3 separate regions of the Homo sapiens genome follow, and all the other regions are linked to region 1. The links come from fine-mapping of genetic effects on gene expression. A gene starts in region 1. Each other region holds a variant in brackets. All regions are shown on one strand. Distances are between the middles of the regions.

What was found. PIP is the estimated chance that this variant, and not a neighbour inherited with it, causes the effect.
Region 2: its variant is fine-mapped to the expression of TRMO in whole blood (TOPMed, PIP 0.92).
Region 3: its variant is fine-mapped to the expression of TRMO in whole blood (TOPMed, PIP 0.98).

The regions. Positions count from the first base shown.
Region 1 is chr9:97,916,237-97,926,265 of GRCh38, forward strand. It overlaps TRMO (tRNA methyltransferase O), which reads right to left and starts at 6,264. Exons shown (of 5, transcript NM_016481.5): 1 at 6,182-6,264; 2 at 1-102. The coding sequence starts at 6,257. RefSeq lists an enhancer at 5,867-6,316.
Region 2 is chr9:97,945,240-97,955,268 of GRCh38, forward strand. No RefSeq gene overlaps it. Among named protein-coding and RNA genes, the nearest start is that of HEMGN, 12 kb to the left of the region's middle. The variant AT/A (reference allele first, on the strand shown) is at 4,178.
Region 3 is chr9:98,024,567-98,034,595 of GRCh38, forward strand. It overlaps the pseudogene RNU6-918P. Among named protein-coding and RNA genes, the nearest start is that of NANS, 27 kb to the right of the region's middle. The variant A/C (reference allele first, on the strand shown) is at 5,242.

The sequences.
Region 1 (10,029 bases):
AACAGGCTCGAGAATAGCTACAAATGGATGGCTGTCTTGGAGTACCATTCTTGGCCGAGAAACAAGATTCCAAGTAGCCGACTGGCTCAGTTAAAAGATTCCCTACAGGAGAAAATTAGGTAAAAAGTTATTAGTCAAAAGGTCAAACCAAGTTGTAAGAAAACATGTTTTCTCTAATGCATTGGTTTCATAGTTTTAAAATCTTAGTGTCGTGCAACTATAAAAATGATTTTTATAGTATTCATGAATACGTATAAGTATTCTCATCATTACATACACACACATACACATACATCATTACATACATAGTAATATCCCTTTAGATATACTAGAAAGAATAATGGTCCAAGAAAGAAAGAATGAAAGTAAGGGGGCATTTTCAGAATACCTACTATGACCATAATTAAAATTCTATGCTACCAATACTAAGTCATGTGACTCTGGCCAGGGCTATGAGCGTATTTCTTTCTTTTTTTTTTTTTTTTTTGAGATGGAGTCTCGCTGTGTTGCCCAGGCTGGAGTGCAGTGGCCCGATCTCGGCTCACTGCAACTTCTGCTTCCCGGGTTCAAGCATTTCTCCTGCCTCAGCCTCCCCAGTAGCTGGGATTACAGGCGCCCACCACCACGCTCAACTTTTTTTTTTTTTTTTGTATTTTTAGTAGAGATGGGGTTTCACCATATTGGTCAGGTTGGTCTTGAACTCCTGACCCGCCCACCTTGACCTCCCAAAGTGCTGGGATTTTTAGTAGAGACGGGGTTTCACCATATTGGTCAGGCTGGTCTTGAACTCTTGATCCACCCACCTCAACCTCCCAAAGTGCTGGGATTATAGGCGTGAGCCATAGTGCTTGGCCTATGAGGGTATTTCTAATAGAGGAGAGAGTGTACACAAAAGTAAATGAGAAATGTCATAGCATATGCAGGGAACAAGCTATTTTGATTGGCTGGAGTATGAAATAAGAGGCAGAGAATAATGAAAGATGAGGAAACACTGGGTATACATAAGTAAGGATATCTTCAATTGAAAGCAACAGAACATATGAAATAAACTAATTTAAGCAATAAAGAGAGCTTATAAGCTCATAGTGCTAAAATATCTAGAGGCAAGGTAAATTTCAAGTTAGGCTTGGTCCAGTAGCCTACTGCCCCTCTAGAATGTAAGCTCCATGTGGGCAGTTTTTCTGTCTCATTTATCGCTGCATTCTCATTGTCTAGTACATTGCCTGCAACGGAGTAGGTACTCAAAAAATTCATGTTGCATAGAAGAAAAGATCATATATGTCTAAACTGATTAATGTGGAAATTGAAAAAGTAAAATAATAATATATATAATATAATCCCACTTATGGAAATTTGTTACATATTTACCTTCTTAAACACATACAGGTATGTTTGGAAAGCTATCTGGAAGGATATGCACCACATGCTGTGTTTTATTTTTTGTTTGTGTTTGTTTTTTTGAGACAGAGTCTTGCTCTGTTGCCCAGACTGGAGTGCAGTGGCACAATCTCGGCTCACTGCAATCTCCACCTCCCAGGCTCAAGCGACTCTCGTGCCTCAGTCTCCCAAGTAGCTGGGATTATAGGCACGCACCAACATGCCCATCTAATTTTTTTTTTTTTTTTTGTAGAGAAGGGGTTTTACCATGTTGGCCAGGCTGGTCTTAAACTCCTGACCTCCAGCAATCTGCCCATCTCGGCCTCTCAAAGTGCTAGTATTACAGGTGTGAGCCACCACACCTGGCCAATATTCACCAATTTTTTTAACAGTGGTTAATCTGGGTGGTGAGATTTTTTAATTACCTTTAAATTTAACTTCGTAATTTCTATAATATTTGAAGTTTTTTCAATAATCACAAATTAGGCCAGGCGCGGTGGCTCACGCCTGTAATCCCAACACTTTGGGAGGCTGAGGTGGGCAGATCACCTGAGGTCAGGAGTTCGAGACCAGCCTGGCCAACATGGTGAAACCCCATCTCTACTAGAAGTACAAAAAAAAAAAATAATTAGCCAGGCATGGTGGTGCATGCCTGGAGTCCCAGCTACTCAGGAAACTGAGTCAGGAGAAGCACTTGACCCTGGGAGGCAGAGGTTGCAGTGAGCCAAGATCACGCCACTGCACTCCAACCTAGGTGAGCGAGACTCCATCTCAAAAAAAAAAAAAAATCACAATTTTTTTAAGTAATAACATATTTCAAAAGAAAAAAAATGGCCAGACACTATCAATATAAAGTCCAAGGTTTCCATGGCTACCACTTTGAATTTATTGATAACTTTTTTATTATTCTCACATTTCATGACAGCGTTATCAATTTCTGAGAGATGATATAAAGACACTTCAGACTTTATTTCCTGCTTCCTTAAATCTACCCTACCAGCATAAGCAGTAAGACTATAGGTCTGGGGCTGTCCCTCACAGTATCTTTCATTACTCTTCACTTCTAGAAGCTACTTTATTTGATATATATAAATATCATATGCAACATACATGTAAGTTATACGGCATAATATGATGAAACCCCGTGTATACACCACCCATCCCAAAAACTAGAGCGTTACTAACGACTTGTTCTTTTTAGGTTGTTTTTCTCTTACCTCACACCCTTCTTTTCCCTCTGAGATAAACAGAAGCCTGAATTTGATCTTTATCATTCACTTCCTTTTAGAGAATGATTTTGTTACATGTACATGCATGCCTAAACAGTATTTCATTGATTTTTGTCTTTAAGATCTATAAAAACTGGCACCAAACTGTAAGTTGTCTTCTCAGACTTGCTTTTTCTCTCTCAATATTATGAGGCTAAGATCCATACATACTCTGTATGTTTTTGACAACTTTAATTTTTGTTCAAGTATGTTTACAGGCATTGTTTTTAGTTTTTTGTTTTTTCTTTTTAATCCTCATCCATGCTTCTATGGAACAGATATAGTAGACATCTTAAAAATGAAGAAACTGAGGCCAAACGACCTGGCATATCTTCTTTATGTCTGGAAGATAAATGGCCAAAAAAGACCCCTAGCCCAGCCACAAAATCCCTGTGTCTTCTTTTCATTTGTTCAAGAAACATTTTCTGGCTGATACTCTGGGCACACTGCCCATGAGTTAGCTCTGCTCCACAAAGAGAAGAAAAAAAAAAGAAAGAAAGAAAAGAAAAGAAAAGAGAAAAGAAAAAGGAAAGAAAAGAAAGGAAAGGGAGGAAAGGGAAAGAAAGGAAAGAAAAGAAAAGAAAGAGAGAAACACTATTTTCCAAGTGTCTACAATTGCCAGACATTGTGTTAAGTTTGGAGAAAAGATACAAACCAAGAACTCTTACTACAGTGGAATTTAATAGTTGAGGAGACTATCACACCATGCTTCAATATCATGGGAAATGTCCTGTCAGCAGTAAAGTAATCAAAGACTTCTGCCCTTGACTCTTTGATTTGGGGCCTAGGAATTTATATTATAGCTGATTTATCACTTCACTAAATCAGTCTATGCCTGTTTTTCACAGATTACACATATGATATGATAAATATAAGTGGCTGCCAATTAGATTTACTTCTATCCTCTAATTAGATTTACTTCTATCCTCTTTGTGCATCTCCTTAAGAACATAAGCAAGACAACACTGGATTAGCAATGAACTGGAAGTATACTCAAGAGCTACTTTGAAAGAGTTCTTCTAACTCTGCTACTCTAAAATGTTTGGGACCACTCTCAAAATACCAAATATCCATATCCTAGTACGTCTGAACTCTTCTGGGACATATTTATACATTCTCTGTGCCCTCCTGGGGATAATGCTATGAAATATAAATGCTATTTGAAGCAGAGACCTGACACCGTTTGCCAAGGGGAATTCTGGTCTTCTTCTTCTTGCCTATCTCAAAACGACAACAACAAAAACCCAAAAGAACAGTAAACACCTACCATTTTGGTAAGCACTGTGCTAAGGACTTGGGGTACAAATATGAACCAGTTCTCGTCCTCAAGGGTTTCCAGTACATTGACAGAGAAAGACAAGTAAATCAACAATTCTAGCTAGGTGCCTTTGCAGGGATAGAGATAAATAAGCACAGGTATGACAAAAACCAGCACAAGAACCTCATGGAAATGGGGAGAAGTGGTTCCTCAAAGGAGCATGAGAGAATTAGGACTGGTTTCAGAATGGAGAAAGGATAAAAACAACACAGGGCCACTACACTAGCTGTGTGACCATGGGAAAAACTAGCTTCTCTCTCTGAATCCGTTTTCTCATCTATAAAACAAGGGATACTACCTACTTTGGAAAGCTGTAAAAGTACTAATAAAATAGGAAAGCATCCAATAAAATAGAAGGTGCCCAGCAAGGAGTGCTTTTTAAAGTCCCTGCTCAGGCTTTTTCCTCATTTAAACATTACAACTGTATTAACTGTGTAATAAGTAAAAAGCCAGCAAGCAATCAATGTGGGGTTTTTTGTGTACAGGATTGTCTACACGTCTTGCTCTGAAAATAAGTTCAGGTCCTTTTCATTTCCACCTGTACTATTAAATTACCCTTCTTAGGCTTTCTGTCCCCACTGCAAGTTCTTCCCCTTCTCAAAATACTCTAGACGAATCCTCAACACTCCTAGAGTTTCTTGTGTTATGCTAACTCTTTAACTTTAAACTTTTCATATTCTCCACTGTTAACAGACTTTGTATTTCTTAGCCTGGTACTCAAGTTTCTTCACAATCAGAATCCAAAGGTTCCCACCTCCCTGTTCCATCCAACACTTTAGACTTCTAGCTCCCCAAACCTATACTGTGTAGACTTCTGAGCCCTGGCTTCTGCGTTTTCCTTCCTGTCAAAATATGAGACCTGTAATCGGCAGTGTGCAACAATTTTTTTTAAATAAGCACATTTGGCCAGGTAATAGCACTTCCAAGAAATTTAACAAAGTTCAAACTTTAGAATGTACACAAACATTTCGGCTTCAAGAGCTTTCTTTTAGAACAATGCAAACTGGCAATAACTTAAATGCTCAGTAACAGGAAGCTGGTTAAATTAGAGCACATATCTAAAACAAAGCGTTAGGCTGGTTGCAGTGGCTCATGCCTGTAATCCCAAAACTTTGGGAGGCTAAGGCAGGTGGATTGCTTAAGCCCAGGAGTTTGAGACCAGCCTGGGCAACACGGTGAGAGCTTGCCTCTACAAAAATTAATAATAACAAAACAAAGTGTTAATTTTTTTTTTTTTTTTTTGAGACGGAGTCTCGCTCTGTCGCCCAGGCCGGAGTGCAGTGGCGCGATCTCGGCTCACTGCAAGCCCGCCTCCCGGGTTCATGCCATTCTCCTGCCTCAGCCTCCCGAGTAGCTGGGACTACAGGAGCCCACCACCACGCCCGGCTGATTTTTTTGTATTTTTTAGTAGAGACGAGGTTTCACCGTGTTAGCCAGGATGGTCTCGATCTCCTGACCTCGTGATCCGCCCACCTCGGCCTCCCAAAGTGCTGGGATTACAGGCATGAGCCGCTGCGCCCGGCCCAAAGTGTTATAATTAACATTAACTGCCCTGTTAAGATTTTTTTTTAAATTATTTTAACGTTACTAAACAGGTCGTATAGTACCTCACTTTCCAAGTGTGTATGCAAAGAAACAAGCGTGGAAGGTAGACACCAAGATATTGACAATGGCTTTCTCTGGCAGGTTATTTTAATTTTCTTCCATTTGCTTTCCAGTTTCTAAAGCTAATATATTCCTCTATGAAAACGTGTGAGTAAAGAGAAACAAATTCATGCCTTGTCTTTCTAGGCCCAATTTAAAACTATTTTCTCCCCCAGAAACTTTCCCCCTTCTCTGTCCTCATTCCTACAGCGCAGGATGCCTCTCTATGGCATTTATTAATTCCTAACCCGCCTAACACCATCTCCCATACGCTATGGCAAGGAAACCCCTAAGAGAAAAGCCCCTACGCTGCACGTAGCTGCTCCAGCTACTGAGCCAAGACTACGCAGACAGTACAAGTCTTATAACAAAGCGGAACAAGCCAGATGACGTCATCCCGCTCGCCAAAGCACATCACGTGGTCTCCGCAGCACGTGACCCGTGCCTTCGCCGTAGGTAAAAGAATGACGCACGTCAGTTCCAGATCGTGCGTTTTACACCCCTCTCGGCAACGAAGTCCGCTGCCTGGGCCTAAACCTCTCCAGAGTGTGGCACCGCCGGTGTTGGAAGTTACCTGTCTCCAGAGCCGGCTTAACGCAGCCGCACGGGGTCGCTGTAGGCCGAGGCCCCGACTCCTCCAAGCCGCGCATGGCTACTGGTTGCTGAGGTGCCCACCCGACGCATTCAACCTTCCGCTTCCGCTCTCCATGCCTGACGCATGCGCAGTGGCCTCGCCGGCGAGGTCCCGCGAACCCAGGAGAATGTGCGCGCGCAGGGTGGCGTTGAGGGAAGCTTTGAGTTCTCCATGGGGCTTCGAACCCTATCCCGGGCGTGTGCCCCTCCGGGACCCCAATCTCGTTTATCTTACACACAGCTGCTACAGTTGCCCGCCCTCCTAGGGTAGAATGCGACTCCGGCTTCCCGCGCTTTTTGAGAGGGAACACACCTCCATGAAGAACTCGCAACTATGTCTCTCTCGAAACATTATTAAGTAACCTATACGTCCAGTATGACCCTAATTTTTAAGGGATGTGTATATGTAATTAACACAGAGCGGAAGGACTGGACGTTAAGAAATGTTAAGAATTCTCAGGCACCTGTGGTCCCAGCTACCCAGGAGATTGAGGCGGGAGGATCGCTTGAGCCCAGGAGTTTGAGGCTGCAGTGAACCGTGATCGCGCCACTGCACTCCAGCCTGGGTGACAGAGCGAGACCTCGTATCAAAAAAAAAAAAAAAAAAAAAAAAAAAAAAAAAAAAAAAATTATCCCTGGGTGGTGGGAAATTTTTCCATAATATAAGTTATGCTTTGTCAGAAACAACCCCAAATAAGTCTTATTTCAAGTGTGGTGGATGTTATAAAGGAGCCCTACTATGTGCTAGGGGTTAAGGAGTGGGAACTGTTTCTTGTGCTCCACACCTTACCGGAACTGAAGTGAGAATGGAATTATAAGAGTCAACATGCCATGTGCATTGTGGGGATTATTGTCGTTTCTGGACAGCTCTGAGAAGCTAAGAGCTAACAAGAATCATTTAATCCCATGCAATGACCAGTTGTCCTTGCAATGATAGCCTATCTTTTACCCACTTGTAATGCTGTCTCTCACCTTTAGTAAGTTTCTCTGTATATAATTCTCTTTCTGGGAGAAATTTTAAAATCTTTTATCTTTTTATCTGTTAACATCTGCAGTATAAAATATTCAAAAGCATATGAGTCACAGATTGAAAAGTCTAACAACCATGAAAAGATGTTTCCATGTCTGTCCATTTGTCATTGATTTCTGGTAGAAAATAACCAGCAGGAGGAGCCAAATAATTAAAGATTGTGGTTTAAAAAATAAGATAAAACTGATCAAATTCATATAGTGTCTTTTGGCAGGTCATTTTTACAGGACAACTTGGAAAAGGCTGCCATTTTTTTTAGGAGGGACAGCTCTGTGCAGCTGGAGAAACAAGTTTGAAAATCATTGTTTTATATATATATAGCGCGCGCGCGTGTGTGTGTATGTGTGTGTTTATAAAACTGGGCCAGAATTACTGCGCTTGCCACTAGATGGTGGTGTTGCTAAAAATGATAGTCCCGCTTTATCTGTGGAAAGACTAGATTTAAAGAGATATTTGCCCTCCTGGAGGGCATGGTAGACGTTGTTAATCACACAAAAAAATATGTAATTACCAAGTGTGACAAGTACTGAAATGCAAAGCTGATTTGAATATACTAGGGAAATAGATTGCTACTTCTTTTATAGGTAAAATTTCTCTTGACTGAAAACGGGAACTTAAATATGCAGCACATTTTTTAGTCTATGATTTGAAGTTCTTATTATCTTGTCTGGAATTATATGTGATTATTTGCAGTTTATAAGACTTAACCTCTCCTCCAGATGTAAGACCTAGAAATCTGCCTTAAAGAAATGACCTAAATAATTATGTAGTCTTCAGCTTGTACTACTTTGAGAAACACTTCTCAGTAGAGTGATTCTTAACCTCTCATTTGGGTGAAGGACCCCTTTGAGAATCAACTAAAGCTTTGAACCGTCCCACACATCATTTTGGCTATAATATCATATGGTTCATGGGTTTCTAACCTAACATGAGAGGAGGGCAGCACAAAGTCAAGCTAGAAGGATTCTTGCAAAACTTTAATTCTGTCACCTAAAGGTTCTAAGCCAAGAAGAACGCCAGAAGAATTTTAGATGCACAGTGATGTTTAAACAAGAATGGTGAGAAAGCAGAAGTGGTGTGTGAATGCAGGGAGTGATGTAAGAGGGCAAGCAGAAAGGGTCCCGAGAGGTGGAGAGAGAAATTCTGCTTCCTCTAATGTACTGCATTCCTCTTTCCCTCTCCTTCCCCATCTCATCTTTGTGCTCCTGTGCACTGTACGTATGCAAATCTCTTAAGGTCCATCTTAATGCAACGCTGTTAGAACTTGAGACTTCAGTTTACTCTTTTTTTTCCTCTAATTTTGGCCCACTCTGGCAGGTGAAATTGAGACAGAAGCACATTCCAAAGAAGAAAAAAAAGCACTGAGGAAGTCAGATGTGACTTTGGGTGAGTACCTTCCCTCTATGTTATTCCCTCATCTTTAAGTGAGAGTGATAATCACCGCCTGGCCTATTTCACATACTTTTGTACAGATCAAATAAAATAGTTTATGTGAAAGTATAAATGTTGAAGTGTCATTGAGAGGTAAGAAACTATTATATGGTTGTGGCCGGGCGCGGTGGCTCACTCCTGTAATCCCAGCACTTTGGGAGGCCGAGGAGGATCACGAGGTCAGGAGATTGAGACCATCCTGGCTAACATGGTGAAACCCCGTCTACTAAAAATACAAAAAAAAAAAAAAAATAGCCAAGCGTGGTGGCGGGCGCCTGTAGTCCCAGCTAGTCGGGAGGCTGAGGCAGGAGAATGTCGTGAACCCAGGAGGCGGAGCTTGCAGTGAGCCGAGATGGTGCCACTGCACTCCAGCCTGGGCGACAGAGTGAGACTCCGTCTCAAAAAAAAAAAAAAAAAAAAGAGACGAAACTATTATGTGGTTGTGCTGCCCTGCCCTCAGTATGTTGTGTAATAAATATAATAGGGGTATGAATAATTGTGCAATGAATACATCCTGATGGTAAAAAATTTAATGTACACACAAAAGGGGGTAGGCAGATAGGAGGGAAACAATATTGTAACATCCCACTGTACTATTGGTTCTCAACCCTACCTCCACTTTAGGATTGTCAGGAGAGCTTTTAAAATAAAAACATCCTAAATGCAATTCTATATCCTGGATTGGACCCTGAAGCAGACAAAGCACATTAGTGGAAAAATTCATGAAAACGGAATAATGTCTGTAGTTAATGGTAGTGTAACTATCCTGATTTCTTAGTTTTGACAAATGGCCCATGGTTATGTAAGACGTTAACATTGGTGTAAACTGGGCGAAAGGTATATAGTAACTTTTGTACTATCATGACAACTTTTCTGTAATTCTAAAATTATTCCTCCAAAAACTATTATTTGAAGCATAAAACAATTAAAAAATAAATATACCTATGCCTGTACATCAGCTAGATGGGGGAATCTGAATCCCTGGGGGAGAAGTCTGGACATATATGTATTTTTGAAACCTTCCCAGGTGAGTCTAATGTACCAGAAGGGTTGAAAGAACCACTGCTCTCTCATGTTCATTATACCATGAATGCCTGAGGGACTGTGACCCTGTCTTGTTCTTTGATATAGCTAGTACCTAGCACAGTGTCTATATGGAAAGCTTGTGCAAGTGTGTTCTTGCTGAATGAAACTTTATTTGCAAAAATATCCTTAGTCCTCTGTAATAACAGAAGGAAAAGTGAAAACAAAAAATACCAGGGTAGATTTTCAGACATCTTCCCATCCAGAACAGCTTCTATTCCTGCCCCGGTCTCTTGTCGTTTTCA
Region 2 (10,029 bases), 29 kb after region 1:
TTTTTTGCACATCTTTATATATATATATATATATATATATATATACATCTTACCATACATATATATACATATATATATATATATATACATCTTACCATACATATATATACATATATATATAAATACTTTAAGTTCTAGGGTACATGTGCACAACGTGCAGGTTTGTTACATAGGTATACATGTGATATGTTGGTTTGCTTCACCCATTAACTCGTCATTTACATTGGGTATTTCTCCTAATGCTATCCCTCCCCCTGCCCCCCACCCCCAGACAGGCCCCAGTGTGTGATGTTCCCCTCCTTGTGTCCAAGTGTTCTCATTGTTCAATTCCCACCTATGAGTGAGAACATGCAGTGTCTGGTTTTCTGTCCTTGTGATAGTGTGCTCAGAATGATGGTTTCCAGCTTCATCCACTTCCCTGCAAAGGACGTGAACTCATCCTTTTTTATGGCTGCATAGTATTCCATGGCATATATGTGCCACATTTTCTTAATCCAATCTATCATTGATGGACATTTCAGTTGGTTCGAAGTCTCTGCTATGGTGAATAGTACTGCAATAAACATATGTGTGCATGTTTCTTTATAGTTGCATGATTTATAATCCTTTGGGTATATACCCAGTAATGGGATCACTGGGTCAAATGGTATTTTTAGTTCTAGATCCTTGAGGAATCACCACACTGTCTTCCACAATCGAACTAATTTACATTCCCACCAACAGTGTAAAAGCATTCCTATTTCTCCACATCCTCTCTAGCATCTGTTGTTTCCTGACTTTTTAATGATCGCCATTCTAACTGGTGTGAGATGGTATCTCACTGTGGTTTTGATTTGCATTTCTCTGATGACCAGTGATGATGAGCATTTTTTCATGTGTCTGTTGGCTGCATAAATGTCTTCTTTTGAGAAGTGTCTGTTCATATCCTTTGCCCACTTTTTGATGGGGTTGTTTGTTTTTTTCTTGAAAATTTGTTTAAGTTCTTTGTAGATTCTGGATATTAGCCCTTTGTCAGATGGGTAGACTGCAAAAATTTTCTCCCATTCTGTAGGTTCCCTGTTCACTCTGATGGTAGTTGTGCTGTGCAGAAGCTCTTTAGTTTGATTAGATTGCATTTGTCTATTTTGGCTTTTGTTGCCATTGCTTTTGGTGTTTTAGTTATGAAGTCCTTGCCCATGCCTATCTCCTGAATGGTATTGCCTAGGTTTTCTTCTAGGTTTTCTATGGTTTCAGATCTAACATTTAAGTCTTTAATCCATCTTGAATTAATTTTTGTATAAGATGTAAGGAAGGGATCCAGTTTCAGCTTTCTACATATGGCTATCCAGTTTTTCCAACACCATTTATTAAATAGGGAATCCTTTCCCCATTTCTTGTTTTTGTCAGGTTTGTCAAAGATCAGATGGTTGTAGATGTGTGGTGTTATTTCTGAGGCCTCTGTTCTGTTCCATTGGTCTATATCTCTGTTTTGGTACCAGTACCATGCTGTTTTGGCTACTGTAGCCTTGTGGTATAGTTTGAAGTCAGGTAGCGTGATATCTCCAGCTTTGTTCTTTTTGCTTAGGATTGTCTTGGCAATGCGGGCTCTTTTTTGGTTCCATATGAACTTTAAAGTAGTTTTTTTCCAATTCTGTGAAGAAAGTCATTGGTAGCTTGATGGGGATGGCATTGAATCTATAAATTACCTTGGGCAGTATGGCCATTTTCACAATATTGATTCTTCCTATCCATGAGCATGGAATGTTCTTTCATTTGTTTGCGTCCTCTTTTATTTTGCTGAGCAGTGGTTTGTAGTTCTCCTTGAAGAGGTCCTTCACATCCCTTGTAAGTTGGATTCCTAAGTATTTTGTTCTCTTTGTAGCAATTGTGAATGGGAGTTCACTCATGATTTGGCTCTCCGTTTGTCTGTTATTGGTGTATAGGAATGCTTGTGATTTTTACACATTGATTTTGTATCCTGAGACTTTGCTGAAGTTGCTTATCAGCTTAAGGAGATTTGGGGCTGAGATGATGGGGTTTTCTAAATATACAATTACGTCATCTGCAAACAGGGACAATTTGACTTCCTCTTTTCCTAATTGAATACCCTTTGTTTCTTTCTCTTGTCTGATTGCCCTAGCCAGAACTTCTGACACTATGTTGAATAGGAGTGGTGAGAGAGGGCATCCCTGTCTTGTGCCAGTTTTCAAAGGGAATGCTTCCAGTTTTTGCCCATTCAGTATGATATTGGCTGTGGGTTTGTCATAAATAGCTCTTATTATTTTGAAATAAGTCCCATCAATACCTATCTTATTGAGAGTTTTTAGCGTGAAGGCTGTTGAATTTTGTCAAAGGCCTTTTCTGCATCTATTCAGATAGTCATGTGGTTTTTGTCATTGGTTCTGTTTATGTGATGGATTACATTTATTGATTTGCATATGTTGAACCAGCCTTGCATCCCAGGGATGAAGCCGATTTGATCGTGGCGGATAAACTTTTTGATGTGCTGCTGGATTTGGTTTGCCAGTATTTTATTGAGGATTTTTGCATCGATGTTCATCAAGGATATTGGTCTAAAATTCTCTTTTTTTGTTGTGTCTCTGCAAGGCTTTGGTATCAGGATGATGCTGACCTCATAAAATGAGTTAGGGTGGATTCCCTCTTTTTCTATTGATTGGAATAGTTTCAGAAGGAATGGTACCAGCTCCTATTTGTACCTCTGGTATAACTGGGCTGTGAATCCATCTGGTTCTGGACTGTTTTTGGTTGGTAGGCTATTAATTATTGCCTCAATTTCAGAGCCTATTATGGGTCTATTCAGAGATTCCACTTCTTCCTGGTTTAGTCTTGGGAGGCTGTATGTGTCCAGGAATTCATCAATTTCTTCTAGATTTTCTAGTTTATTTGTGTAGAGATGTTTATAGTATTCTCTGATGGTAGTTTGTATTTCTGTGGGATCAGTGGTGATATCCCCTTTATCACTTTTTATTGCATCTATTTGATTCTTCTCTCTTTTCTTTTATTAGTCTTGCTAGCGGTGTGTCAATTTTGTTGATCTTTTAAAAAAAAACAGCTCCTGGATTCATTGATTTTTTGAAGGGTTTTGTGTATGTGTGTGTCTCTATCTCCTTCAGTTCTGCTCTAATCTTAGTTATTTCTTGCCTTCTGCTAGCTTTTGAATTTGTTTGCTCTTGCTTCTATAGTTCTTTTAATTGTGATGTTAGGGTGTCCATTTTAGATCTTTCCTGCTTTCTCTTGCGGGCATTTAGTGCTATAAATTTCCCTCTACACACTGCTTTAAATGTGTCCCAGAGATTCTGGTATGTTGTATCTTTGTTCTCATTGGTTTCAAAGAACATCTTTATTTCTGCATTCATTTCATTATTTACCCAATAGTCGTTCAGGAGCAAGTTGTTCAGTTTCCACGTAGTTGTGCGGTTTTGAGTGAGTTTCTTAATCCTGAGTTCTAATTTGATTGCACTGTGGTCTGAGAGACAGTTTGCTGTGATTTCTGTTCTTTTACATTTGCTGAGGAGTGCTTTACTTCCAAATATGTGGTCAATTTTGGAATAAGTGTGATGTGGTGCTGAGAAGAATGTATATTCTGTTGATTTGGGGTGGAGAGTTCTGTAGATGTCTATTAGGTCTGCTTGGTGCAGAGCTGAGTTCAAGTCCTGGATATCCTTGTTAACCTTCTGTCTTGTTGATCTGTTTAATATTGACAGTGGGGTGTTAAAGTCTCCCATTATTATTGTGTGGGAGTCTAAGTCCCTTCGTAGGTCTCTAAGGACTTGCTTTACGAATCTGGGTGCTCCTGTATTGGATGCATATATATTTAGGATAGTTAGCTCTTCTTGTTGAATTGATCTCTTTACCATTATGTAGTGGCCTTCTTTGTCTCTTTTGATCTTTGTTGGTTTAAAGTCTGTTTTATCAGAGACTAGGATTGCAACCCCTGCTTTTTTTTTTTTTTTTTTTTTTGCATTTGCTTGGTAGATCTTCCTCCATCCCTTTAATTTGAGACTATGTGTGTCTTTGCACATGCGATGAGTATCCTGAATACAGCACACTGATGGGTCTTGACTCTTTATCCAATTTTCCAGTCTGTGTCTTTTAATTGGGGCATTTAGCCCATTTACATTTAAGGTTAATATTGTTATGTGTGAATTTGATCCTGTCATTATGATGTTAGCTGGTT[AT/A]TTTGCCCGTTAATTGATGCAGTTTCTTCATAGCATTGATGGTCTTTCCAATTTGGCATGTTTTTGCAGTGGCTGGTACTGGTTGTTCCTTTCCATGTTTAGTGCTTCCTTCAGGAGCTCTTGTAAGGTAGGACTGGTGGTGACAAAATCTCTCAGCATTTGCTTGTCTGTAAAAGATTTTATTTCTCCTTCACTTATGAAGCTTAGTTTGGCTGGATATGAAATTCTGGGTTGAAAATTCTTTTCTTTAAGAATGTTGAATATTGGCCCCCACTCTCTTCTGGCTTGTAGAGTTTCTGCTGAGAGATCCGCTGTTAGTCTGATGGACTTTCCTTTGTGGATAACCCGACCTTTCTCTCTGGCTGCCCTTACATTTTTTCCTTCATTTCAACCTTGGTGAATCTGACAATTATGTATCTTGGGGTTGCTCTTCTCAGGGAGTATCTTTGTGGTGTTCTCTGTATTTCCTGAATTTGAATGTTGGCCTGCCTTGCTAGGTTGGGGAAGTCCTCCTGGATAATATCCTGAAGAGTATTCTCCAACTTGGTTTCATTCTTCCCGTCACTTTCAGGTATGCTGATCAAACGTAGATTTGGTCTTTTCACATAGTCCCATATTTCTTGGAGGCTTTGTTCATTTATTTTTACTCTTTTTTCTCTAAACTTCTCAATTTATTTCATTAATTTGATCTTCAATCACTGATACCCTTTCTTCCACTTGATCAAATTGGCTATTGAAGCTTGTGCATGCATCACGTAGTTCTCATGCCATGGTTTTCAGTTCCATCAGGTCATTTAAGGTCTTCTCTACACTGTTTATTCTAGTTAGCCATTTGTCTAATCTTTTTTCAAGGTTTTTAGCTTCCTTGAGATGGGTTCAAACATCCTCCTTTAGCTCGGAGAAGTTTGTTATTACCGACCTTCTGAAGCCTACTTCTGTTAACTCATCAAAGTCATTCTCTGTCCAGCTTTGTTCTGTTGCTGGCGAGGAGCTGCGATCCTTTGGAGGAGAAGAGATGCTCTGGTTTTTAGAATTTTCAGCTTTTCTGCTCTGGTTTCTTCCCATCTTTGTGGTTTTATCTACCTTTGGTCTTTGATGTTGGTGACCTACAGATGGGGTTTTGGTGTGGATGTCCTTTATGTTGATGTTGATGCTATTCCTTTATGTTTGTTAGTTTTCCTTCTAACAGTCAGGTCCCTCAGCTGCAGGTCTGTTGGAGTTTGCTGGAGGTCCACTCCAGACCATTTGCCTGGGTATCACCAGCAGGGAGGCTGAAGAACAGCAAATATTGCAGAACAGCAAATATTGCTGCCTGATCCTTCCTCTGGAAGCTTTGTCCCAGAGGGGCACCCGCCTGTATGAGGTGTCAGTCGGCCCCTACTGGGAGGTTTTTCCCAGTTAGGCTACACAGGGGTCAAGAACCCACTTGAGGGGGCAGTCTGTCCATTCTCAGAGCTCAAACACCATGCTGGGAGAACCACTGCTCTCTTCAGAGCTGTCAGACAGGGACATTTAGTCTACAGAGGTTTCTGCTGCCTTTTGTTCAGCTATGCCCTGCCCCCAGAGGTGGAGTCTATAGAGGCAGCAAGCCTTGCAGCAGTGAACTGGTGGGCTCCGCCCAGTTCAAGCTTCCTGGATGCTTTATTTACCTACTCAAGCCTCAGCAATGGCGGATGCCCCTCCCCATGCCGGGCTGCTGCCTCGCAGGTTGATCTCAGACTGCTGCACTAGCAGTGAGCAAGGCCCCATGGGTGTGGGACCTGCCGAGCCAGGCACAGGATATAATCTCCTGATGTGCTGTTTGCTAAGACTGTTGGAAAAGTGCAGTATTTGAGCAGGAGTGTACTGTTTTTCAGGTACAGTCTGTCACGGCTTCCCTTGGCTAGGAAAGGGAAATCCCCTAGTCCCTTGCACTTCCCAGGTGAGGCGACACCCATCCCTGCTTTGGCTTGCCCTCCGTGGGCTGCACCCACTGTCCAACCAGTCCCAGTGAGATGAACCAGGTACCTCAGTTGGAAATGCCGAAATCACCCATCTTCTGCATCAATCACACTGGGAGCTGCAGACCAGAGCTGTTCTTATTAGGCCATCTTGGAATGGACCTCTAATATTTTTTATTTTATTGCTTATGTGTACACATCTTTTCTATTATATTCACTCAGCAAACATTTATTAAGCATTTATTTCTTACTAACCCCTTTGCTAAGAATTGGAGACAGAGAGAGAAATCAAATGAGAGTCTTTTCCTTCAAGGAACTCACAGCCTAATTGAGGGTGGTAGACAGCAAGTAAACCTGGATTTAGAATATAATACAGTGTGATAATGTTCTTTCTTTATTTACTTATTTAAGAGACAAGGTCTTGCTCTATCACACAGGCTGAAGTGCAGTGGTGCAATCATAGCTCACTGCAGCCTCTAACTTCTGGGCTCAAACGATCCTCCCGCCCCAGCATCCTGAACAGCTAGGACTACAGGCACATGCCACCATGCCCAGCTAATTTTTAAAACATTTTTTTGTAGAGATAGCATCTCACTATGTTGCCCAGGCTGGTCTCAAACTCCTGGCCTCAAGCCATCCTCTTGCCTCAGTTTTCCAAAATGTTGGGATTACAGGTGTGAGCCACTGCACTCAGCCCAGTGTGATAATTTTAATATCAATATTTCTAAATGTTCTGAGCATAGAGATGGGGTGCTTAATGCTGCTACCATGGGATTGGAAAGACAAGGCTATTACATTGTTCATCCTATGGGTATAATTGTCTTTATTCATACTGCCTTGGAAAGACCCTGCCATCAGTCAATCAGTTGGGAAATGAAGAGGCATTATATGTATATAATAGTGTTACATTCACTTTTATTTATTTCACAGAAATAATAATAGCCAATATTTAAAGTACTTGCTTATCACATCTCAAGCACTGCTCTAAGCACTTTACGTATAGTAACTCATTAGTCTTTACAACAGTCTTTAAGGTAGGTGCTATTGATACCTCTATTTTATAGAAGAAGCAACTGAAGCACAGGCTTTAAATCTGTGCTCTAAGACACTCTCCTAGTAAGTAGCAAAGGTAGGTGGCTTGAATCTAGAGGCCATATGCTTAACCACCTTCCTCTCCTATCTCTCAATTCTACTTCCTTAGTATTTAATAAAATAAGGTAGCAATATATTTTCTTTTGTAATTCTTTCCCTCTCCTTTCTCCCCTTTCTCCCCCTCCTTCACACTCCCTCTGTTTCCATAATGATTTGTTGACTACCTATTCTATGCAGGGTGTTGGGGACGCAAAGGCAAATATAACAACAACAACAGCAAAAGACATACTTAGAAAATTAAGGGAACACTGAGGAGAGAGATGTCTAAACAGGATGGAGAGAGGAGGTCAAAGAAGCCCTCCTGGAAGAGATGATCTTGAGCTTAGTTTTGAAGGGTGAATAGGAATCAACTACTAGGATACAGCAAGGCTTAGGGGAAAAAACACAGGCTCTGGAATCAGATCCAAGTTCATTCAAATCAAGTTGTGTGTGACCTTGGGCAAGTTACTTAAAATCTTCCAGGCTCAACTCTCTGCGTATGTAGAATAGGCATTATAATACCTACCTTTTGGCCAGGTGCAGTGGCTCACGCCTGTAATCCCAGCACTTTGAGAGGCCGAGGTGGGCCGATCACCTGAGGTCAAGAGTTCAAGACCAGCCTGACCAACATAGTGAAACCCTGTCTCTACCAAAAATACAAAAATTAGCTGAGCATGGTGGTGCATGCCTGTAGTACCAGCTACTTGGGAGGTTGAGGTGGGAGAATCAGTTGAACTCAGGAGGTGGAGATTGCAGTGAGCCAAGATCGTGCCACTGCACTCCAGCCTGGGTGACAGAGCGAGACCTTGTCTCAAAATAATAATAATAATATCTACCTTTTAAGGCTGTTGTGAGAATAAGAATGATGACTTACGGAAAGCATCCTGCACAGTGCCTGCCACAAAGCAGACCGTATGTGCTGGCTGTTATCATGATTGTTTATAATCTCATTAATAAAAAGTGAAATAGAACCACCAAATAATAAAGCTAAGCAGAGCATTAAGAGTTATTATGTAGATAAGGAAATGGAGACCCAGAGAGAAGCCAGTGTCACACAGGCTGAGTGGCAGTTGGAACTGGAATCCAGATCTTCTGACAGTCTACTTTTTTCTTCGCCTATCTGACATTCCAAACTCCTTTGTTTACAAGTCAATCCACCTCATCCCCCAGGATAACAAAGAAGTTCTCAAACTTTCCAATTGTTTGTACTCTACCTTTGTGATTTTTACCATGTTCTTGTATTGACGTGCTTTTATGCTATTATTTACTTAGTTTTTTTTTTTTTTTCAAATAAACTCATTTTTACTAAAAGTACTTTAAATTAAACTTTAGCTGGGGCAACAGAGAAACCTCATCTCTACCAAAAAAAATTTTTTTTTAAATTAGCCAAGCATGATGGTGTGTACCTGTGTTCCCAGCTACTTGGGAGGCTAAGGTGGGAAGATTGCTTGAGCCCAGGAGTTCAAGGCTGCAGTGAGCCATGATCACACTACTGTACTCCAGCCTAGGTAGCAGAATAAGACCCTCTCTCAAAAATAAATAAATAAATAAATAAGCAAATACAGTGAAAATTTCATATCATTATCGTAAATGGAAAACCAAAAATATCACCTGTGAAATCATAGGTTTGTGGTATAATATAGTTCTTCAAAGACATCTTAAAATAAATACTGAAATATTAAAATAAAAGGCGTTTCATCAAAAATTATCTGCGCTGCCCTGAGTGGCATGCATACTACTTCTTAGGAAATGCTGGCCTATAGAGTGAATTATTTTCCTTTCACAGAAATTCTAGATCATGTACAAATCTATCCTAAAACAAAACTGCCCTTTTCAGTGGCTGGTTTATATTCAGAAGGCACAGAACATAAGACCCAACTCACTCCCTGGCCTGCCACCGACCCACTGTTATTCGTATCAGCTATCACTGGTCCTTAGTTGAATACTAGTCTCACCTCTTTTAGCTAACTTCTCTACTCCTTGGAGTTTTAGATCCCTGGCATAAAACATGTACTAGAACCTAATATGATAAAGTGCATTTGTTTGGAAACTTCAGCACCCTGTTTCTAGCAGATTCTATCACATGGACTTGGGGTTTAGAGTTGGGATAACCTAGATCAGTTCCTGCCCAAAAGGGACCACTGCTTCCAAATGCAACCTTCCAAATGGTTCCATTCCAGGTGGCTGCCAGTGGGCCTGTGAACCAATTGAGGTACAGGTGCTTCTGGCTAGAACTGCTGCCACTAGGTGGACATAAATGGCAATTGCACCATTCTGACCTGTCAACTAGGTCATGAGCCCTGGCTCCAGCACTTTCCCTTAGAGGCAGTTGGCCTTTCTCTGTTAATTCTCTGACACCCTCTGTTCCCCCTTCCTCCAAGTCCTCCTCTGGGTAAGTTAGCACTGGGGATGTTTGCATACCTAGCACTTAGCTAACTGATATTCTGTCACAACCTGCTCAACAAATGTTAGGCTTTTTTGTATTTTGTTAGAATTTAGTGACACTTAGGTTATATTTTTAGCCAGGTTGGAGAGGGAAAAGGAGGAGTTACTTTAGCATGCAGGAAATGTATTGCCAGGTCTTTCTTGCCTGGCATTCTCCTAAGCATCTGTGAATACCTTTAACACACAGCGTTCAGGATCTGATCTGATCTGATTTTATCAGCTTGTATCCTGGGCAAAGCCAACAAGAGGATGAAGAACATTTTGTGCTTCTTCATGTTCTGTATCATTACCCTTTATTGTTAGTGCTCTCATCTCTTTCTAAAGAGGCCAGCCTT
Region 3 (10,029 bases), 110 kb after region 1:
GACCTAGGCTGGTGATGTTTTAGGCCCCAGTGAATTTTTTTTAGTTTGACAACGGTTGTCCCCTATCATGACTTCCCTGGAGGCCACTCAGACAATAAAGAAGGAAGCCCTATTTTAATAATGCAGGCTCCATTCCTCATGTCTATGCTTAATGTGGGGACAGTTCTGGAAAGGGAGGACAATAAGTACCCAGAGGTAATGGCGGACTCCCTCCTGGTGTAAATCTAAAACTGCTCAAATCACATGGGACAGCCCAGCCATCCATGTTAGAAATGATGCCATTCTCCTTGGGGAAGAGTCATTGATTCTTCCACTCAACACACTGAGCATCTACTGTGTACACAGCTCTGTGTTAAGTACTGTTTACTTGGATCAGCAGAAGGGCTCAAATGTCAGGAGGTGATGAGTTATATTTATATATGAGAATACAAAAAGATGAACAGGATAGAAATAATCTCTAGTCCTACCCACACAGAACCTACAGGCTACTGAGCAAAACACTTATGTAAATGTGTAATTGCAATGCAGTGTGTAAGTTCCGTAGCATCGGGTAGTACACGAACTGAGGAAGGGCAGGGCAGGGACAGAGCTCCCGAGGAAATGACCTGAGGAGTGAGTAGGAGGGAGCCAGGCAACATGTGAAAAGAAGAGCATTCAGAGAGCAGGACCATCCTGTGCAAAGGGCTGGGGGCCAGACAGCTGAGAGAAACTCAGCATGGGAGGAATGAAGAGTGAAGAGGATGCTCATGAGAGATGAGGTTGGGGAGGTAGGAGTGGGGCAGGCCAGAAAGAGCTCTCGGGGCCAGGCGCAGTGGCTCATGCTTGTAATCCCAGCACTTTGGGAAGCTGAGATGGGTGGATCACGAGGTCAGGAGTTCGAGACCATCCTGGCCAATATGGTGAAACCCCATCTCTACTAAAAATGCAAAAATTAGCTGGGCGTGGTGGTGGGCGGCTGTAATCCCAGCTACTTGGGAGGCTGAGGCAGGAGAATTGCTTGAACCTGGGAGGTGTAGGTTGCAGTGAGCCAAGATCGCTCCACTGCATTCCAGCCTGGGCGATAGAGCTAGACTCCGTCTCAAAAAAAAAAAAAAAAAAAGCTCTCTTGGGGTCTTTGAACAACCTTAAACAAGCAAGTGGTGGGACCAAAATTTCTTTTTGAAATTGCACGTGGAGGCTGGGTGTGCTGGCTCATACCTGCAATCCCAGCACTTTGGGAGGCTGAGGCAGGCAGATCACTTGAGGTCAGGAGTTCAAGACCAGCCTGGCCAACATGGTGAAACCTTGTCTGTACTAAAAATACACACACACACACACGAAATAGCCAGGCATGGTGGTGGGCAACTTTAATCCCAGCTACTTGTGAGGCTGAGGCAGGAGAATCATTTGAACCCGGGAGACAGAGGTTGCAATGAGCCGAGATCGTGCCATTGCACTCCAGCCTGGGCAACAGAGGTAGACTCTGTCTCAAAAAAAAAAAAAAAAAGAAAGAAAGAAAGAAATTGGGGAAGGAGCAGGATTAGAGGCAGGAAGACCATTTAGAATAGGCAGCAATCTATTCTAGAGGCAGCAGTCACAATGAGGAATGAAGAGGGCCTGAGCTAGAGAAGTGGACAGGCTGGCAAGAGGTTAATAGGGTCTGGGGTTAGGGAGAGAGGAAATGCAAGGCAGGCACTCAGATCTGGCACCTAGGACAGGAAATGGAGGAGGGAGAGGAGCAGGCTGGGAACAGGACAAGAGAAAAGAATGAGTCTCAGCATCTAGGCTTTGACTGAAGTTACAGGTTTCATCTTTTTTTTTTTTTTTTTGACAGGGTCTCACCATGTCGTCCAGGCTGCAGTGCAGTGGCATCTGGCTCACAAGCAGCCTTTACCTCCAGGGTTAGGTGAGTCTCCCATCTCAGCCTCCCAAGCAGCTGAGACCACAAGCATGAGCTACCATGCCCAGCTCATTTTTGTATTTTTTGTAGAGACCGGGGTCTCACTGTGTCATACAGGCTTGTCTGGAACTCCTGGGATCAAGCGAACCTCCCACCTCTGCCTCCCAAAGTGTTGCGATTAAAGGCGTGAGCCACCGTACCCAGACTCATCCACTTTGTTATTCAACAGATAGTGAATCCTCCTCTGTGCAAGTCCTGGAATTATGGTTTCAGGATTCATTGGCACAACAGTTGGCAACTGAAATTATGGGTATAGACAGGTCATCTAGGAAAAAAGTGTGTAAAATGAGAAGAAAAGAAGGCCCAGAACAGATCGCTAAGGTACGATTTGTTGTTGTTGTTTGAGACAGTCTTTTTTTTTTTTTTTTTTTTTTTTTTTGAGACAGAGTCTCTCCGTCGCCCAGGCTGGAGTGCAGTGGCGCGATCTCCACTCACTGCAGGCTCCGCCCCCTGGAGTTCACGCCATTTCCTGCCTCAGCCTCCCGAGTAGCTGGGACTACAGGCGCCCGCCACCTCACCCGGCTAATTTTTTGTATTTTTAGTAGAGACGGGGTTTCACCGTGTTAGCCAGGATGGTCTCGATCTCCTGACCTCGTGATCCGCCCACCTCGGCCTCCCAAAGTGCTGGGATTACAGGCATGAGCCACCGTGCCCGGCTGAGACAGTCTTGCTTTGTCAGCCAGGCTGGAGTGCAGTGGTGCAATCTCGGCTCACTGCAACCTCTGCCTCCCAGTTTCAAGCAGTTGTCCTGCCTCAGCCTCCCGAGTAGCTGGGACTACAGGCATGTGCCACCACGCCTGGTTAATTTTTGTATTTTCAGTAGAAACGATATTTCACCATGTTGGTCAGGCTGGTCTCAAACCCCTGACTTCAGGTGATCTGCCCCCTTTGGCCTCCCAAAGTGCTGGGATTACAAGTGTGAGCCACCGTACCCAGCCTGTTGTTTGTTTTTTAAGGGAGGACAGAAGAAGAGGAACCAGCCAGGCAACAAGACACGAAGGAGCCAGAGCAGTTGGAAGAAACCAGGAGAGTGATGTCCCTAAAGCCAGTTTTTTGTTTGTTTTTGAGACAGAGTTTTGCTTTTGTTGCCCAGGCTGGAGTGCAATGGCGTGATCTCGGCTCACTGCAACCTCCGCCTCCTGGGTTCAAGCAATTCTCCTGCCTCAGCCTCCCAAGTAGCTGGGATTATAGGCACCTGCCATCACGCCCAGCTAATTTTGTTTGTCTGTTTGTTTGTTTTTGAGACAGAGTCTCACTCTGTCATCCAGGCTGGAGTGCAGAGACGCAATCTCAGCTCACTGCAAGCTCCGCCTCCCGGGTTCACGCCATTCTCCTGCCTCAGCCTCCCGAGTAGCTGGGACTACAGGTGCCCACCACCAAGCCCAGCTAATTTTTGTATTTTTAGTAGAGACGGGGTTTCACCGTGTTAGCCAGGATGGTCTCGATCTTCTGATCTCGTAATCTGCCCACCTCGGCCTCCCAAAGTGCTGGGATTACAGGCGTGAGCCACTGCGCCCGGCCTGTTTGTTTTTTGAGATGGAGTTTTGCTCTTGTTGCCCAGGCTGGAGTGCAATGGTGCTATCTCAGCTCACTGCAATCTCTGCCTCCCGGGTTCAAGAGATTCTCCTGCCTCAGCCTCCTGAGTAGCTGGGATTACAGGTGCCCACCACCATGCCTGGCTAATTTTTGTATTTTTAGTAGAGACGGGGTTTCACAATGTTGGTCAGGCTGGTCCTGAACTCCTAACCTCAGGTGATCCGCCCACCTTGGCATCCCACAGTGCTGGGATTACAGGCATGAGCCACCGTGCCCAGCCCCTAAAGCCAGTTCAGATGACCCTGAAGACAGGGTCCTCAGAAGCCTAGGGTGTCACATGCATCCATGCTTCCAAGTCCACCAGTAAGATAAGGTCTGAGGTGCATCATTGCTAATCTGTCATAGAGCAATTCAAGGGTTCGGGTTGGGGTTGAGGCCAGACTAAGGAGAGCTGGGCAGTGGGAGGGATAAGTGGAGATAATAAGTGTCCTTCAAGAGGATTGGTTGTGAAGAGGAGAGAGAAGGTGAGAGGTGAAGAAAGGACAAGGGGTGTAAGGAGCTTCCCCAGCAAGCTGCAAGACCTGACCATGATTCAATGCTCATGCAAAATGCCAGCTGAAAAGGGGAGGTTGAATACACAGGAAGGGAGATAGACCATTAGGCAGGTTTTCTCCAAAAGCCTCATGATGCATAACTAAGATTGGGGTTTGAGAATTGGAGGATAGAGAATTTAAGTTTGATATAAAGAAAAAATAAGGAACAAAAGAACAGACCTGTGAATCAGTGGAAAGGTCTTTGCAGACAAAGATGGGACTGTTGGTACTTGTGAATACTGCAGAAAGAGATCCTAGCTCCATATACAGGTTGGACAAAATGAGGGCTGAAGTGCCTTTCAAAGATTTAAATTCTTGATCCCATCCCACATTTTATTTTATGGCGAGGGGGTGCACAATTTACAAATGAACTACATATTTCTGATTGAGAATGGCTAATAAAATTCTCATTATTTCATTCAAGGTCCCTAAATACCCACTGTGTTCCAAGCACTGGGTTGGGACACAGCAGATCTGAGTTCCATACACTAAGCCTTTTCCACTTAATGTCAGTTATTTAAATGGATCAGGTCAAGTGCGATAGTGCGCACCTGTAATCTTAGCTACTCAAGAGGCTGAGGTGGGAGGATGGCTTGAGGCCAGGAATTGGAGGCTGCAGTGTGCTATAATCACACCTGTGAATAGCCACTGCACTCCAGCCTAGGCAATGTGGCAAGATCCCATCTCTAAAAATAAAAATAAACAATTTTAAAAGGGCTGGGCATAGTGGCTCACATCTGTAATTCCAGCACTTTGAGAGGCCAAGGCCGGAGGATTTTTTGAGGCCAGGAGTTTGAGAACAGCCTGGGCCACAAAGTAAGATCCCCATCTCTACAAAAAAAATTTAAAAATTAGCTGGGCATGGTAGCATGTACCTGTAGTCCAGTTTCTTGGGTGGCTGAGGCAGAAGGATCCCTTGAACCCAGGAGATCAAGGTTACAGTGAACTGTGATCACACCTCTGTACTCCAGCCTGGAGTACACTGGGCAACAGAGTGAGACCCTGTCTCTTAAAAAAAATAAAAAATAAAAAATGGGATCAATTTCTGTATAAGTCATTGTTTGCACTCACCTTGTTGGTAAACTGGGAGCAGCTGCGGCTGGAGGACAGTTGAGGCATGTTATCTTGGGATTGCTGAATGCTGCAGTTCACAGTGGGGAGGATCTCCACTTC[A/C]TTCCTTCTTTACCATCTCAAGAGCTCCTGAGAAAGCTGGAGGTTTGGCCGGGTATGGTGGCTCATGCCTGTAACCCCAGCATTTTTGGAGGCTGAGGCGGGCAGATCACTTGAGGCCAGGAGTTCAGGACCAGCCTGGCCAACATGGTGAAACCCTGTCTCTACTAAAAATACAAAAATTATCTAGGCATGGTGGTGCGCACCTGTAGTCCCAGCTATGTGGGAGGTTGAGGCATGAGAATCTCTTGAACCAGGAGGTGGAGGCTGCAGTGAGCCAAGATTGTGCCACTGCACTCCAGCCTGATCGAGAGAGTGAGACTCCATCTCCAAACAAAAAAAAAAAAAAAAAAAAAAAAAAAAGGAAAAAGAAGAAAGGTGGAGGTTTTTGGAGCATTCTCAGAGTGCAGTATTTGTTTCTAAGTCTCAGCAGGGGATGTAGAGATGGGGCAGAGGCAGGTGGTTCTTCCATTCCACCCCAAACCTCACTGGACTCAGACTCTCAGGGATACACTATAATGACTGCTAACTTTGGTAGCACCTGCACCTAGTGTAGCTTCCTAATGCTTCCGTGAATCCCAGGGAGAACACTGTAAAATGATCATATGATCTTTTATTTCTCACTTAATTCATTCTGTGTCATTCCATTGGTTTGTGAATTGTGTCAATAGATAGAAAGTTTGGACTGTGGGTGTCTGGAAATATATCCACCCCTTCTACATTAATTCTTATGAAAAAATATTTTATTCACCTTTTTTACTGTAAGATGAATTTCCCAGTAATGTAACCTTGATGCAAATAAATGCTCTAACCGTTGTGCCAAAAGTTGCAATTAATAAACCCAATGTCTTGTTCTTCTTCTCAACCCAATTCTAAAATGAGGGTTTTCTCTAAGATGCAAATTCTAACACACACGAATAATCTTCTCATATAAGGTTGATGGTTTCTCTAACACAAAACTCTTAACAGTCTGGATATAAAGTGGCTGTACTAGGATGTATTCAATTTCATAAAGTTCTCTACAGCTTGTAGCTCCATTAGAAACAAATCTCAGCGTCTCAAAAACCCTCAGAAAACTAGGAATAGAGGGAACTTCCTGAATTTGATTAAGAACATCTACAAAACCCTGCATTTAATACTATACTTAATGGTGAAAAATGGAATGCTTTCTTTCTAAGATTGGGAACAAGGCAAGGATGTCCACTCTCACCACTCTTATTCAACATACAACTGAACATTCTAGGCAGTGTAACAGGCAAGAAAGAAAAGAAAAGAAAAGGCACACATTTCAGAAAGGCAAAAATAAAATGGTCTGTATTTGCAGATGATACGATGTGGTAGAAAGTCCCAAAGAATCTACACACACACACACACACACACACACACACACACATACACACACACATACACACATACAAAATTCCTAGAATCTATATACTAATGAACATATGGAAACCAAAATTAAAAATAAAATACCATTTATAATCACTCAAAACATGGAATATTTGGGTGGAAATCTAACAAAACATGTATAGGATTTCTATGCTGAAAACTATAAAATGCTGATGAAGGAAATCAAAGAATATCTAAATAAACTGAGAGGTAAAACTGTGTTCATGGGTTGGAAGACTAAACATAATAAAGTTGTCAATTATTCCCATATTGGCACACTTTCTATCAAAATTCCAACAAAATCTATTTCTTGCAAATATTGACAAAACTTTTCTAAAATTTATGTGGAAAGGCAAAGGAACTAGAATAGCTAGAATAATTTTAGATGGTTTATTAAAATTTAGCTAATTTTAGAGAAAAATCAGTCTACCTAAGTTCAAAACCTGTTATATGGTCACAGTGTGGTTCTGGCCCAGGAATAGCACACAGATCAATGGAACAGAACACAGAACTCGGAAACAGAGCCACACAACTATTTTTGACTGCTGATTTTTGACAAAGGTGCAAAAGCAATCAATGGAGACAAGTCTTTTCAACAAATGGTGCTGAAGCAACTGGACATCTATAGGCCCCAAAATCAACCAAACAACAAAACTTTGACATAAGTCTCATATATTGTACAAAAATTAACTTAAAATGGACCTCAGTGCCAGACGTGGTGGCTCACGCCTGTCATCCTAACACTTTAGGAGGCCAAGGAGGGAGGATCACTTGAGGCCAGAAGTTTGAGACCAACATGGCAAGACCTTGTCTCTACAAAAAACACAAAAATTTGTTGAGCATTGTGGGGCACACTTGCAGTCCCAGCTACTACAGAGGTTGTGGTGGAAGGATCGCTTGAGCTTGGGTGATGGAGGCTGCAGCAAGCTATGACTGCATCACTGCATTCCAGCCTGGGTGACAGAGCAAAATCCTGTCTCAAAAAAAAAAAAAGACCTCAGACTAAAATGTAAACATAAGACCATAAGACTTTCTGCTCACTTTGGCAACACATAAACCAAAACTGGAATGATACAGAGTAGATTAGCATGGCCCCATGTAAGGATGATATAAAAATTTGTGAAGCATTTCATATTTTAAAAACAATTCTATAAAAAATTTAGAAAAAAAAAAGAAGCACAGGAGAAAACATTTGGGATCTAGAGTGAGACAAAGAGCTCTTAAACTTAGCCCCCAAAACATGATTCATAAAAGGAAACATTTATATATTGGACTTTGTCAAAATTAAAAGCTTTTGCTCTGCAAAAGACCTTGTAAAGAGGATAAAAAGACAAGCTACAGCTACAGACTGGGAGAAAATATTTGCAAACCACATACCTGACAAAAGGACTAGTAACTAGAAATATGAAGCACTCTCAAAACTCAACAGCAAAAAAACAAGAATAGAATTAGAAAATGGGCAAAAGACATGAAGAGATTTCACTGAAGAGGATATACAGAAGGCAAATAAGCACATGAAAAGATGTTCAACATTATTATTAGCCATTTGGGAAATGCAAATTAAAATCACAATGAGATATCACTGCACTCCTCTCAGAATGGAAAAAATGAAAAATAAGGACAACACCAAATGCTAGTGAGAATGCAGAGAAACTGATCAATTATATATGTCTGGTGAGAATGTAAAATCATACAGCCACTCTGGAAAACAGTTTGGCAGTTTCTTATAAAAATGAAACATGTGCCAGGCACAGTGGCTCACGCCTGTAATCCCAGCACTTTGGGAGGCTGAGGCGGGTGGATCACTTAAGGTCAGGAGTTCGAGACCAGCCTGACCAACGTGGTGAAACCCATCTCTACTAAAAATACAAAAATTAGCCGGGCATGGTGGTGCATGCCTGTAATCTCAGCTACTCAGGAGGCTGAGGCGGGAGAATCGCTTGAACCCAGGAGACAGAAGTTGTGGTGATTGAGATCACACCACTGCATGCCAGCCTAGGCAACAGAGTGAGACTCCATCTCAAAAAAATTAAAATAAAATAAAAAATAAATAAAAAGGAACACACTACCCATACACAAAACAACCAGGATGAATCTCCAGGGAATCATGCTGAGGGAAAAAAGCCAGCCCCCAAAGGTTACAGAACTGCATGGTTCTGTTTATTAAAAACCCTCTTAAAATGACACAATTATAGAAATGGAAAATATTAGTGGTTGGCAGAGGTTAGGGAGGGGGTGGGGCTGGAGGGAAGTGGGTGTGGCTATACAAATCAAAATGATGGGTTTATTGGGGTGTTATGGGGTGATTCAGAAAATCCAAGGAAGGGTCTCAAAAGAGTTGAAACTGGGCAGCTCTGGGCAACTCAGTTGGCAGAAGTTTATGGACTTGCCATTCCTCATGATTTCCGGGCTACAGAGTCATCATTAGCAGAGAGAATCGTGAGAGAAGAGAACCTGGTTGATAGAGCTTTGGAAGGATAGCCAAACATCAAGGCTGGGCACAATGTCTCATGCCTATAATCCCAGCACTTTGGGAAGCTGAGGTGGGAGGATGACTTGAGCCCAGGAGTTTGAGACTAGCCTGGGTAACATGGCAAAACCCCATCTCTACCAAAAAACATTATCTGGGCAGGGTGGCACACATTTGTGGTCCCCAGCTACTCAGGAGGCTGAGGTGGGAGGATCACTGAGCCTGGGAGTTCAAGGCTGCAGGTGCCACTGCATTCCAGCTTGGGTGACAGAGTGAGACCCTGTCTCAAAAAAAAAAAAAAAAATCCACATCCTTGTTATTATTTATCTTTCCAATTTTAAATATCCTAGCAAGTGCGAAGTGGTATCTCACCATGGGTTTGGTTTGCATTTCCTGATAGTTAACTATGTTGAGCATCTTTTCATGTGCTTATTGACCCAGAGATGATCTTCTATCACATGTCTGCATCAGGTTGGTCAGCTTCCGGGGACAGTATCACACGGCGGAGCCCAAGTTACTATGGGGCGCTCTGGTTCCTGGGGTTGTTTTCAGAGATGACCATGAGGAAGCAGTGTGGTGAGAAAGGTCTCCCATGAAGATACGGATTTTTTTTGTTTTGTTTTTGTTTTTTTTCGAGACAGGGTCTTACTCTGTTGCCCAAGCTGGAGTGCAATGGCACGATCTTGGCTCACTGCAATATCCACCGCCCAGGTTCAAGCGATTCTCCTGCCTCAGCCTCCCAAGTAGCTGAGACTACAGGCGCCCACCACCACACCCAGCTAATTTTTGTATTTTTAGTAGAGACGGGGTTTCACCATGTTGGCCAGGCTGGTCTCGAACTCCTGACCTCAGGTGATCCTCCTGCCACTGCACCTGGGGAAATTTTGAAGCCCTAGAATGGAGGAGATTCCCAATGACAGTGAGGGAGA